Homo sapiens: one gene and its partners. The protein of the gene in region 3 purifies or fractionates together with the protein of the main gene of each other region. This does not show direct contact. Each region holds a gene or a part of one and is shown on either strand. Other genes may lie near its edges.

What was found.
Region 1: the proteins of ORC5 (region 3) and DDR1 purify together in Homo sapiens (co-immunoprecipitation; one large-scale study listed by IntAct). This does not show direct contact.
Region 2: the proteins of ORC5 (region 3) and LRWD1 purify together in Homo sapiens (affinity purification with mass spectrometry; 4 studies listed by BioGRID and IntAct, with this or other methods). This does not show direct contact.

What each region holds. Positions count from the first base shown.
Region 1 is NC_000006.12:30,894,383-30,897,604, forward strand, and holds part of DDR1 (epithelial discoidin domain-containing receptor 1 isoform 2 precursor), read left to right. Parts: intron 1-123; coding exon 124-289; intron 290-1,021; coding exon 1,022-1,132; intron 1,133-2,238; coding exon 2,239-2,483; intron 2,484-2,631; coding exon 2,632-2,759; intron 2,760-2,978; coding exon of another isoform or gene 2,979-2,996; coding exon 2,997-3,215; intron 3,216-3,222. UniProt on the Homo sapiens protein: Tyrosine kinase that functions as a cell surface receptor for fibrillar collagen and regulates cell attachment to the extracellular matrix, remodeling of the extracellular matrix, cell migration, differentiation, survival and cell proliferation.
Region 2 is NC_000007.14:102,467,886-102,470,880, forward strand, and holds part of LRWD1 (leucine-rich repeat and WD repeat-containing protein 1), read left to right. Parts: intron 1-176; coding exon 177-302; intron 303-377; coding exon 378-492; intron 493-668; coding exon 669-769; intron 770-969; coding exon 970-1,177; intron 1,178-1,688; coding exon 1,689-1,761; intron 1,762-1,856; coding exon 1,857-1,997; intron 1,998-2,995. UniProt on the Homo sapiens protein: Required for G1/S transition. Recruits and stabilizes the origin recognition complex (ORC) onto chromatin during G1 to establish pre-replication complex (preRC) and to heterochromatic sites in post-replicated cells.
Region 3 is NC_000007.14:104,166,437-104,170,089, forward strand, and holds part of ORC5 (origin recognition complex subunit 5), read right to left. Parts: intron 2,090-3,653; coding exon 2,037-2,089; coding exon of another isoform or gene 1,939-2,036; exon of another isoform or gene 1,753-1,938; intron 449-1,752; coding exon 336-448; intron 1-335. UniProt on the Homo sapiens protein: Component of the origin recognition complex (ORC) that binds origins of replication. DNA-binding is ATP-dependent. The specific DNA sequences that define origins of replication have not been identified yet.

The DNA of each region.
Region 1 (3,222 bases), on a different chromosome or scaffold from region 3:
ATAGTATCCACAGCTGTAGGGCTCTTGTGAGGGCTGAGGGAGGGAACGCAGGGATGGACACAGCAGAGGGCCAGGCCGTGTGTGCTGAGCAACACGGGTGATGCCTCCCATCCCTATGACAAGGCTGAACGGAGGGTGTTGGAAGAGGAGCTGACGGTTCACCTCTCTGTCCCTGGGGACACTATCCTCATCAACAACCGCCCAGGTCCTAGAGAGCCACCCCCGTACCAGGAGCCCCGGCCTCGTGGGAATCCGCCCCACTCCGCTCCCTGTGTCCCCAATGGCTCTGGTAAGACCTGCCTTGTTCCAGTCGCACCTCTGTCCTCTCTGCTGTTTTCTTATTGTATCCCTTTCCCATTCTCTTTTTTTCCTGTCTTCCCCAGTTTCCACTTGTTTTCTTCTTTCTGTGCCCCTGGTTACTGTCTATATCACTCTTTGTCCCTACCATGTAGTCTCTCTCAAGAGTTCCCCATGTATTACCCATAGTCCCCCGTGGTGCTATCTTGTCTGTGTCCCACAGACATCTCTCTATCTTTGTTGTACCCTCTCATTGTGTCTCCCTGGCCCCTTTGCTTTGTATTAGACTCACCATGTTTGTTCCTTCATCTATCCTCCATCACCCATCCTTCCATCCATAGTCATACATCCTTGCATCCATCCATCAATCTTCCATCATCTGTCTTTCTATCTATATTCATAAATCTATTCATCCATCCATCCACCCACCCATATCCATCATCCATCTATCCATCTATATTCACACATCCATCTTTCCATCTGTTATCCATCCATCCAACAAAACATCTGTTTACCATCCATCCATCTATTCATACGTCCCATCTGTCCATGCATTCATTATCCAGCCAGCCGTCCGTCACTCTGCAGATCCTTGTTTTATCCTGTCTGTCTCTTAATGCAATCATCCCATCAGCCCTGGTCTTGCCCTATTCAAGGTCTCCCTGTCTGTCTAGCCTTGAGTCTCATCCCTTCCCCGTGTTTCCCCTCCTCCTTCTCCCGACAGCGTTGCTGCTCTCCAATCCAGCCTACCGCCTCCTTCTGGCCACTTACGCCCGTCCCCCTCGAGGCCCGGGCCCCCCCACACCCGCCTGGGCCAAACCCACCAACACCCAGGGTAAGCCCCTCTGCCCCTGGGCTCCGCCAGGCTCCCCATACCTCTACTGGGGCAGGGAAAAGCCCTCACACCTTGCACTTCCTCCTCTCCCCACTGTGGCCTATTCTGCTCTCCTGAGCTCCCAAGGAGGAAGCTCTTGTGCCCTTAGCTCATCTCTGCTGCTGCTTGCTCTTTTTTAAGGTCCCCCCCTTGAGCTGAGGAGTAGAAAGCTTACTGGTCCCCAGCTCTTCTCCCTCCTCCTCTTCCACGCCATCTCTTCAGCTCTCCAGAGCTAGACAGGAGGTTGCTGTGGTGGCCCCAGACTATAGTAACTCCTCCTTTATTCTCCACTCTCTCTAGAGCTGCGAGGAGGAGGGCTCTCACCCCGGGCGCTTGCCCTTTCCCTCACATGTGTCCTCTCTCTGCAGTCCCAGAGGTGAAGGCTCATGCCCCAACCCTTTCCATCTGCCCCTCTTCTCCTCAGTGTTGCCTTCTCATTGTGGCCCCTTCCCCAGGGCTAAGAGGGGACAGCTCTGCTTCCTCTCCTGTCTGTAGACAACTTGTGTTGGGGCTGTGAGCAGCTGTTACCCTCCCTCCTCTCTGTGTGCCTCTGTCTCTGCTTGTTGTTGAGCTTGGTGTGTTGGGTTGAAAGGGTTGGGAGGGCTTGGCCCCAGGGGGAGCCAGGCTGAAAGCCACGGGAGAGCAGCTAAGTGAAGGGGAGGGAGCTGTGGTGAACGGGACAAGGGTTTGGAAGGTGGAGGGTGCCTGGATGCTGGGACCATCCTGAGGCGGGAGAATTCCTGGGGAGGAATTCTTCTTCCAGCCAAGATTTATCTCACAGTCTCTTGAGAGACCCTAGGGAGGCCCTAAAAGAGTAAGACTTTATGACAGTTTTGCTCAACCATATTCATTGCCTTGAAAAGCTCTGGAATAGCTAACTCTCGTCCCATGCCAGTGTCTTCCTGGTTTGAGGTTGGCGCATGGAATACTGGGAAGATACAGCATAGACCCAGTCTCTCACTCAACCGGGAGACACAGGGCCCTCCGGGAGGCTGAGGTGTGGGGAACTATAGCTCTTGGGCTGTTCCTGATGCCTCGTCCTGTCTTCTTTCCCCTCACCCCTGCAGCCTACAGTGGGGACTATATGGAGCCTGAGAAGCCAGGCGCCCCGCTTCTGCCCCCACCTCCCCAGAACAGCGTCCCCCATTATGCCGAGGCTGACATTGTTACCCTGCAGGGCGTCACCGGGGGCAACACCTATGCTGTGCCTGCACTGCCCCCAGGGGCAGTCGGGGATGGGCCCCCCAGAGTGGATTTCCCTCGATCTCGACTCCGCTTCAAGGAGAAGCTTGGCGAGGGCCAGTTTGGGGAGGTAAGGAGGGTGCCTACCCAGTGTCTGGCCCTATTGTGTGCTCTGATGCCATGCCTGCGCATCCCCCTAGCCAGGAACCTTAGTCATTTGTAACCGTGTTAATCCGTTTGACCCTGTGACCGCCTAGCAAACGAACTTCTTTCTCCAGGTGCACCTGTGTGAGGTCGACAGCCCTCAAGATCTGGTTAGTCTTGATTTCCCCCTTAATGTGCGTAAGGGACACCCTTTGCTGGTAGCTGTCAAGATCTTACGGCCAGATGCCACCAAGAATGCCAGGTGAGGACCAGGGATGGCATCTGGAAGAAGGGAGGGGAGGCCGTGAAGAGTGGGGAGCCATCTAGAGAGAACAATGGCAGAGCCCAACAGAGGGGTGGCATCTCTGGGAGGGGATTTACATGTACGCTGGGGGTGGGGACGCCTGGTCTGCCTGAGGTGGGGCAGGGGGGTGGGGGCGCGGGGGAAGGTGCAGGCCGCCCACTCGGCATTCCTCTTCAGCTTCTCCTTGTTCTCCAGGAATGATTTCCTGAAAGAGGTGAAGATCATGTCGAGGCTCAAGGACCCAAACATCATTCGGCTGCTGGGCGTGTGTGTGCAGGACGACCCCCTCTGCATGATTACTGACTACATGGAGAACGGCGACCTCAACCAGTTCCTCAGTGCCCACCAGCTGGAGGACAAGGCAGCCGAGGGGGCCCCTGGGGACGGGCAGGCTGCGCAGGGGCCCACCATCAGGTACCTG
Region 2 (2,995 bases), 1.7 Mb from region 3:
AGACCAAGGCGTCCTGGGCATGTGCCCAGGAAGCACCCCAGGTCCTGGCTCACTCCCTAGGTGACCCCGGGCCAGCCTGGGCCTCCTGCATCCGCAGTGAGGTGGGGTCCAGCCTGTGATGGGGAGGAAGGAAGCCCCAGGCAGACAGGCCCATGGTCACAAGGCCCCCTCCACAGGCCAGACTGGCGGCCTTGAAACGGCCAGACGACGTCCCACTCAGCCTCTCTCCCAGCAAGCGGGCGTGTGCCTCCCCGTCGGCCCAGGTGGAGGGCAGCCCTGTGGCAGGCTCCGATGGCAGCCAGGTGAGCTGAGGTGGCAAGGAGCAGGTGGCAGATGAGTCGGGGCTGGGCAGCTGTGACCCTTCTCTCCCCCCACAGCCTGCTGTGAAGCTGGAGCCCCTGCACTTCCTGCAGTGCCACAGCAAGAACAACAGCCCCCAGGACCTCGAGACCCAGCTGTGGGCCTGTGCCTTCGAGCCGGCCTGGGAGGAGGGTACATGGTGGCGGGCAGGCGGGGCAAGGGCCGCTGGAAATAGGGCCGCCTGGATGGGTGGGGGATCAGGAGACAGAGCTTAAAAGGCGCCATCAAGGCTGGGAGGAGGAGGCTGCAGGGAGGACCTAGATGGGAAATGTCTCTGCTCATCCGACCTCTCAAAACCGGGCACTCAGGGGCCACATCCCAGACCGTGGCCACGTGCGGCGGGGAGGCTGTGTGCGTAATTGATTGCCAGACGGGCATCGTGCTCCACAAGTACAAGGCACCCGGCGAGGTGAGTGCAAGGCCCTGTCCCTGCTGGGCAAGGGTGCCCGACTGACTCCTGAACAGCAGCATGGGGATGGATGCAGGCTCGGCCCCCTGCCCCATGGCCTTTTTCTTTCATGCTGGGGCTCCCTCCCCCAGGCCCGGGCTACCCGCGTGTTCACACCAATAGCTCTGCCCCAGTGACTGTTTACTCTAACCCCCGCCCAGGAGTTCTTTTCTGTGGCCTGGACCGCTCTGATGGTGGTCACACAGGCTGGCCACAAGAAGCGCTGGAGTGTGCTGGCGGCTGCAGGCCTACGGGGCCTGGTCCGGCTGCTGCACGTGCGTGCCGGCTTCTGCTGCGGGGTCATCCGAGCCCACAAGAAGGCCATCGCCACCCTGTGCTTCAGCCCCGCCCACGAGACCCATCTCTTCAGTAAGCCCCTCCCCTTCACCCCTGGGACCCCCAAGCACCCCTGTCCTGCTGCCCCAGTAGCCTCCACGCTCCCCTCCCTGGGATGGCTGTGAGCTCGGGCGCCTGCCGGGCCCCAGTCTGCACCGCTCCGACTCTAGCTTTGGCAGGAAGCCATGTCGCTTCAACCCTGGCTTTATCCACAGCCTGCTCTGTGGCCTCGGAGTTTTCCAACAGCCTGGGCCACTCTGTCCCCTGTCAGTGACCTGGGGGGATGCCCCTGCCCCCGGGTGTGGCGCCCCTGTCAAGGGGGATGGATGAGCCACAGGAAGTGGCCGCTGGAGCCACCGCATCAGGTTAGATGGAGGAAACAGGGATTGGGGGCCCAGGAGTGTTCCTGTCTCCTAGCCTCGGCCCGCCCTCCCCGCCTCGGAGGGGCTGGCCTTGGGACCGTGGGCTCAGCCTGGGATGCAGCCAGCAGGAGGGAGCAGGGTCATCTCAGGGCCACTTCTCCCCTACCCCACCCCCTCTTCAGCGGCCTCCTATGACAAGCGGATCATCCTCTGGGACATCGGGGTGCCCAACCAGGACTACGAATTCCAGGCCAGGTGATGCTTCGGGTGAGGCTGGGGAGTGGCCAGCTGCTGGGGCAGGGACACCTCGGTCTGGGTCTGATGCTCTGTTCCCCCTTGCCCACTGGCAGCCAGCTGCTCACACTGGACACCACCTCTATCCCCCTGCGCCTCTGCCCTGTCGCCTCCTGCCCGGACGCCCGCCTGCTGGCCGGCTGCGAGGGCGGCTGCTGCTGCTGGGACGTGCGGCTGGACCAGCCCCAAAAGAGGAGGTGAGGCTGGGCAGGGGGCGCCTTGGAAGCCAGGCCTCTGCAGAGGGTGGCTGTTGGCCCAGATGGGCTCACAGCAGCCTGGGCACACCCGGGTAACCATAAGGGTTGTTTTTAGAGGCCTCTTCGCAGAGCTGGCTTGTCCCACCTTTCTGCCAGGCTCTGGAGGAAAGGACTCTGACCCTGCTCTCACCCTGGGTTCAGCTGTGGGACTGGGCCATGATGACCTCCCCTTCACCTGGGGCTTCAGCACCATGCTGTGCCCACGTGATCCAGCCCACTCCTGCCACTCATCAGCAGTGTGATGGTCCTCTGTGCTGGCATAATGTCCTCATCTGTAAAGAGGGGCCGATGGCTAGCGGAGGGCAGGTGAGGTGGTGTCTGGGCAGGCAGGCTTTGGAAGTGCCACGTTGAGGCTTTCTGGCTCATCTGTCCCACCTGGAAGGCCTCTGAGACAGGGCTTGGCAAGGGGTCCCTGTCCTCTTGGGGCCCCCAGCCTACTGGGGAAGACAGATGCTCAGCAAAGGTGGCCAATCAAAATCCCACAGTGTGATGCCAGCTACGAAGGAGACGGAAAAAGAGTAACGGGCAGAGGGACACTAGCGTGGGGGCCTCAGGGGACTCTGCTGAGGTGACCAGCGGCAGATGGATATTCTGGGGCTCACGCTTTCCTCCCTGGGAGCCTGGTGAGGGAGTCAGCGGGCGGAGGGTGGGGAGGTGCTTGCATGGAGGAAATGGTACGTGCAAAGGTCAGTGGCAGGGGAGCCAGCTGGCCTGCTCCACCATGTGGCCACAGCTGGGTGGACCCAGCCCAGAACAAGGTGGCAAGGGTGCCTGGGCGGGGCACGCCGGGCTTCGTCAGCCACGGTAAGCTTTGCATTTCTATTTATTTACTTTTTATTTGAGATAGAGTCTCCCTCTTGTCACCCAGGCTGGAGTACAGTGGCTCGATCTCGGCTCACTGCAACCTCTGCCGCCAGGTTCCAAGTGATCCTCCTGCC
Region 3 (3,653 bases):
GATAATTATTCACTACAGTGAGTTTTAGAACAACAAAGAGTTACCGCTCTTAAAATTATTTCCATCCTCCACACTTTAAACAAAACCCTATGTATTTTTTAAATCTGAATTATTACCTAAGGTATACCTGATATCCTCTTTTCTATGAAACTGCCTACCTTTTCTCAAATTTGAGGTTGTGACATTAATGTAAAGCCTTTAAAGAATGAGTCCTAAATACATATTTGGCAATCTTATTCTAATCTCTTCCCCTTAGAAATTTACAAGTGTTAAGAAATTTCAAAATATTCCTGGGATCTTAAAAAATAAAGTGAAAAGAAGTATGTTATTATTACCTTAAGAAAAAACCTCTTGTCAGTTCTTGCTGGATTGTATGAAGCAAGGTATGCAGCAATTAGAATGAACTTAGAGTAATATGGAAGTTCCACATGAGTATGCGCTGAGAGGCCTATATAACAAAACACTTTGATGAAGTACTTATTAGGCTAACATTGGGTTTTAAGTATCTCTTCTCACTTGACTTTTCATTTCCATATGGTATTCTCTAGTCAAAATGACCTATTTCCTTATTTTAAAAAGTGTCATGATAATGATGGTCGTGGTGGTGATCAACACTATTATTAATGACAGGCTTTACTCAATCTATTATTTTTGCTTGGCTCTTCTCATTCTGAAGTCTAAATCCTACTCGTTCTTCTCTTCAAGGCCACGCTCTCCATTAAACCCCTGGTGTTCCCCTACCACACCAAAATAGAGAAACTTATTTCTACTATGAATTCCTACTCTGAGTATTCCCACATAACGTGATGCCTTATATTAACAGTTAACTGTACAGGTTGAGTATACTTTATCTGAAATGCTTGGGACCAGAAGTGTTTTGGATTTTTTCAGATGTTAGAATACTTGTATATGCCAGTTGAACATCCCTAAATTCTGAAAAATCAAAGAAAACAAGCATTTCCTCTGAGCTTATGTCAGCACTCAGAAAATTTTGGAGCATTTTCTATTTGGAAGTTTTGGATTCAGAATGCTTAACCTGTACATAAATCATACCCCTTAGTAAACAATACTATTTGTTGAAGGAGCTATGTCTAATGTTTTTTTGTATCCCTACACTGCCTTGCACATAGAAAATAACTGATGAATGGATAAATATTAAAACAGTAGGGTCATTCAAGTAGCACTGATTCTTAAGGGAAGGGAAGGAATCTGATATTTACTGAAAATCTACTATGTGTCAGACACTGTGTTAGGTGCTTTACTTAAGCATCACTTTGAATCTTTGCAGTAATGCTAAATATTCTTCCTATCTCACAAGTGAAAAATTGAGCTGGGTTCAAGGTCAAACAGATAGAAAGTAGTGCAAATCAATTATTACAGATTTGTTCTAACTCTGGCATCTATCCCTTTTCCTAAAAACACACAACTAGAAGTCACTTGTAAAGCATCTGGAACACATAAAAACCAAAAAAACACAAAACAGCACTATTTCATACCATTTTCTTTAACCATCAGCCACTGACTTTTAAAAAAAAATTTTTTTTCAATATTTGCTCATTTTTTTAAGTAAAATTAGTTCTATTTAATATTTGGGATGAATCCAAAGTAGTAGTTTTCTTAAACAAAAGCACAATGTTTTCAAAACATAACCACCAAAGTGCATATCCCAAACCGATTAACATAAAATTACATTTTATTCCATAAAACTCATGAAATATAAACATAATGAGATAAAACTGTCACATAATTAGATTGCTTTAATAAAAGCATTTAAAGAAATAGAAACTGCTTGATTTTCATGATATAATCCAATATTTAGAAAATAGAAAGCTGGTATTCAAACTTTTATTTCCTCCCATTAAATTAGAGCTTCAGTTAAAGAAAAATCATTAATCAAAATAGCATTATAGCTTGAAAAGTAAATTCTCTTTTATAACACTATTTCCTGACTGAATGCTCTTTAGTATTAACTTTAGTATCTTGATAATTAGCTGAAGAAGTATCTCCGGTAACTGTCTCAATACTTCCTCTGATACCTTTCAGTTGCCCCGGATCTGTGTCATCTTTCTGTAGCTTTTCCCACTGGGAACTGAAAAAAAATAGAAGAGCAAAAATGAATTAAAAATAAATAAAATCAATATGGTGTACTTAAAACAGAGCCCTAGAAAAACTAAATTTTTTTATTTATTAACAAAACAGAAAAGAAAAATATATACATGCAATAAACATGTTTGTACCTGTACAAAATAATTTAATGTATATATTAGAATGTCATAAATTTATAAAGCAATACCTAGATATTAACTATTTTAATAATCTCTTTTACTATGATGACTGTTGTAGCTATCAAAAAACTTCACCCAGGCCGGGTGTGGTGGCTCATGCCTGTAATCCCAGCACTTTGGGAGGCCAAGATAGGAGGATCACATGAGGCCAGGAGTTCAAGCTCAGCCTAGGCAACATGGGGAAACCCCATCTCTATTAAAAATACAAAAATTAGCTGGGTATGGTGGCGCATGCCTATACTCCCAGCTACTTGGGTGGCTGAGGCACGAGAATCACTTGAACCTGGGAGGTGGACGTTGCAGTGAGCTGAGATTGTGCCACTGCACTCCAGCCTGGGCGAGAGTGAGCCTGTCTTTAAAAAAAACAACAACAAACAAAAAACCAATAAATACTACCACCTACCACTCGGTAAAACTCCCAATGTTCTAGTTACCGTATTAGATGCAATTGTCATATACTATTTCTAAACTCTATAGCAATCCCTCAAAGTAGGTATCACACCAGAAAACTGAGGCTCAAAGATTAAGTCACCCAAGGACATTTAGCCAGTCAATACTAGAGCTACGAGTCGAATCCTTGTAGGATGCTTGCAGAGTTCAAGGTATTTTAATTGCCCCATCCTGGACTTATTTGCAATTAAAACTGTTAAACAACCAAAACACTATTAAGAATATGAAGTGATTATGACACGACAAATTGAATTTATAAGGCAACACACTATAGTATAATGAGTAAAGAATGCCCTACGACAGTTTTAGCTGCATGACTTCGAAAAAATGAATAGTTTACTCATAAAAAAAAATAAGGCAGTTTGATGCAAAGGTGCTCACCAACTCTAAAACTCTCACAGAACTCTTAAAAATGAGCTAATTTACAGGGCTAATTTAAAAATAATGCCAGATTAGAACAATTAAATATCCAAAATCTGCATGAAGAACAGGGTGGAAGTGATAAGGATGAGTGTGGGCCTTCTTTGAGTATACTTTAAAAAAAGTAGTTTTAGCTTTTGAAGTATTCTTTGATGCCCATCTCTCACCTGTATAGCAATCAACAAGTTTAATTTTCCCCTTTCTCTTTTCCTTCTTTTCCCAATTTTTAAGTTGTAATATTCCTACCTTGTCAGAATACATAATATTTACATACTATTCTTCTACTCTTATTTCCACCTTAATTTTAGTTTGGAGCTAAGCTTAATTAAATTCAATGTTCATCATCAATCCTTTTGTTAGTTTCTCCAGTCATCTCTTTTTCACATCAAGGTCGTCCTAAGAAATGTCTTATGAGTAGTGTTCTCTGAGTTCTTCCATGTTTAATATTGTTTTTCTCTAGCCTTGATAGTTCAATGACAGGTTTGACTGAACATAAAA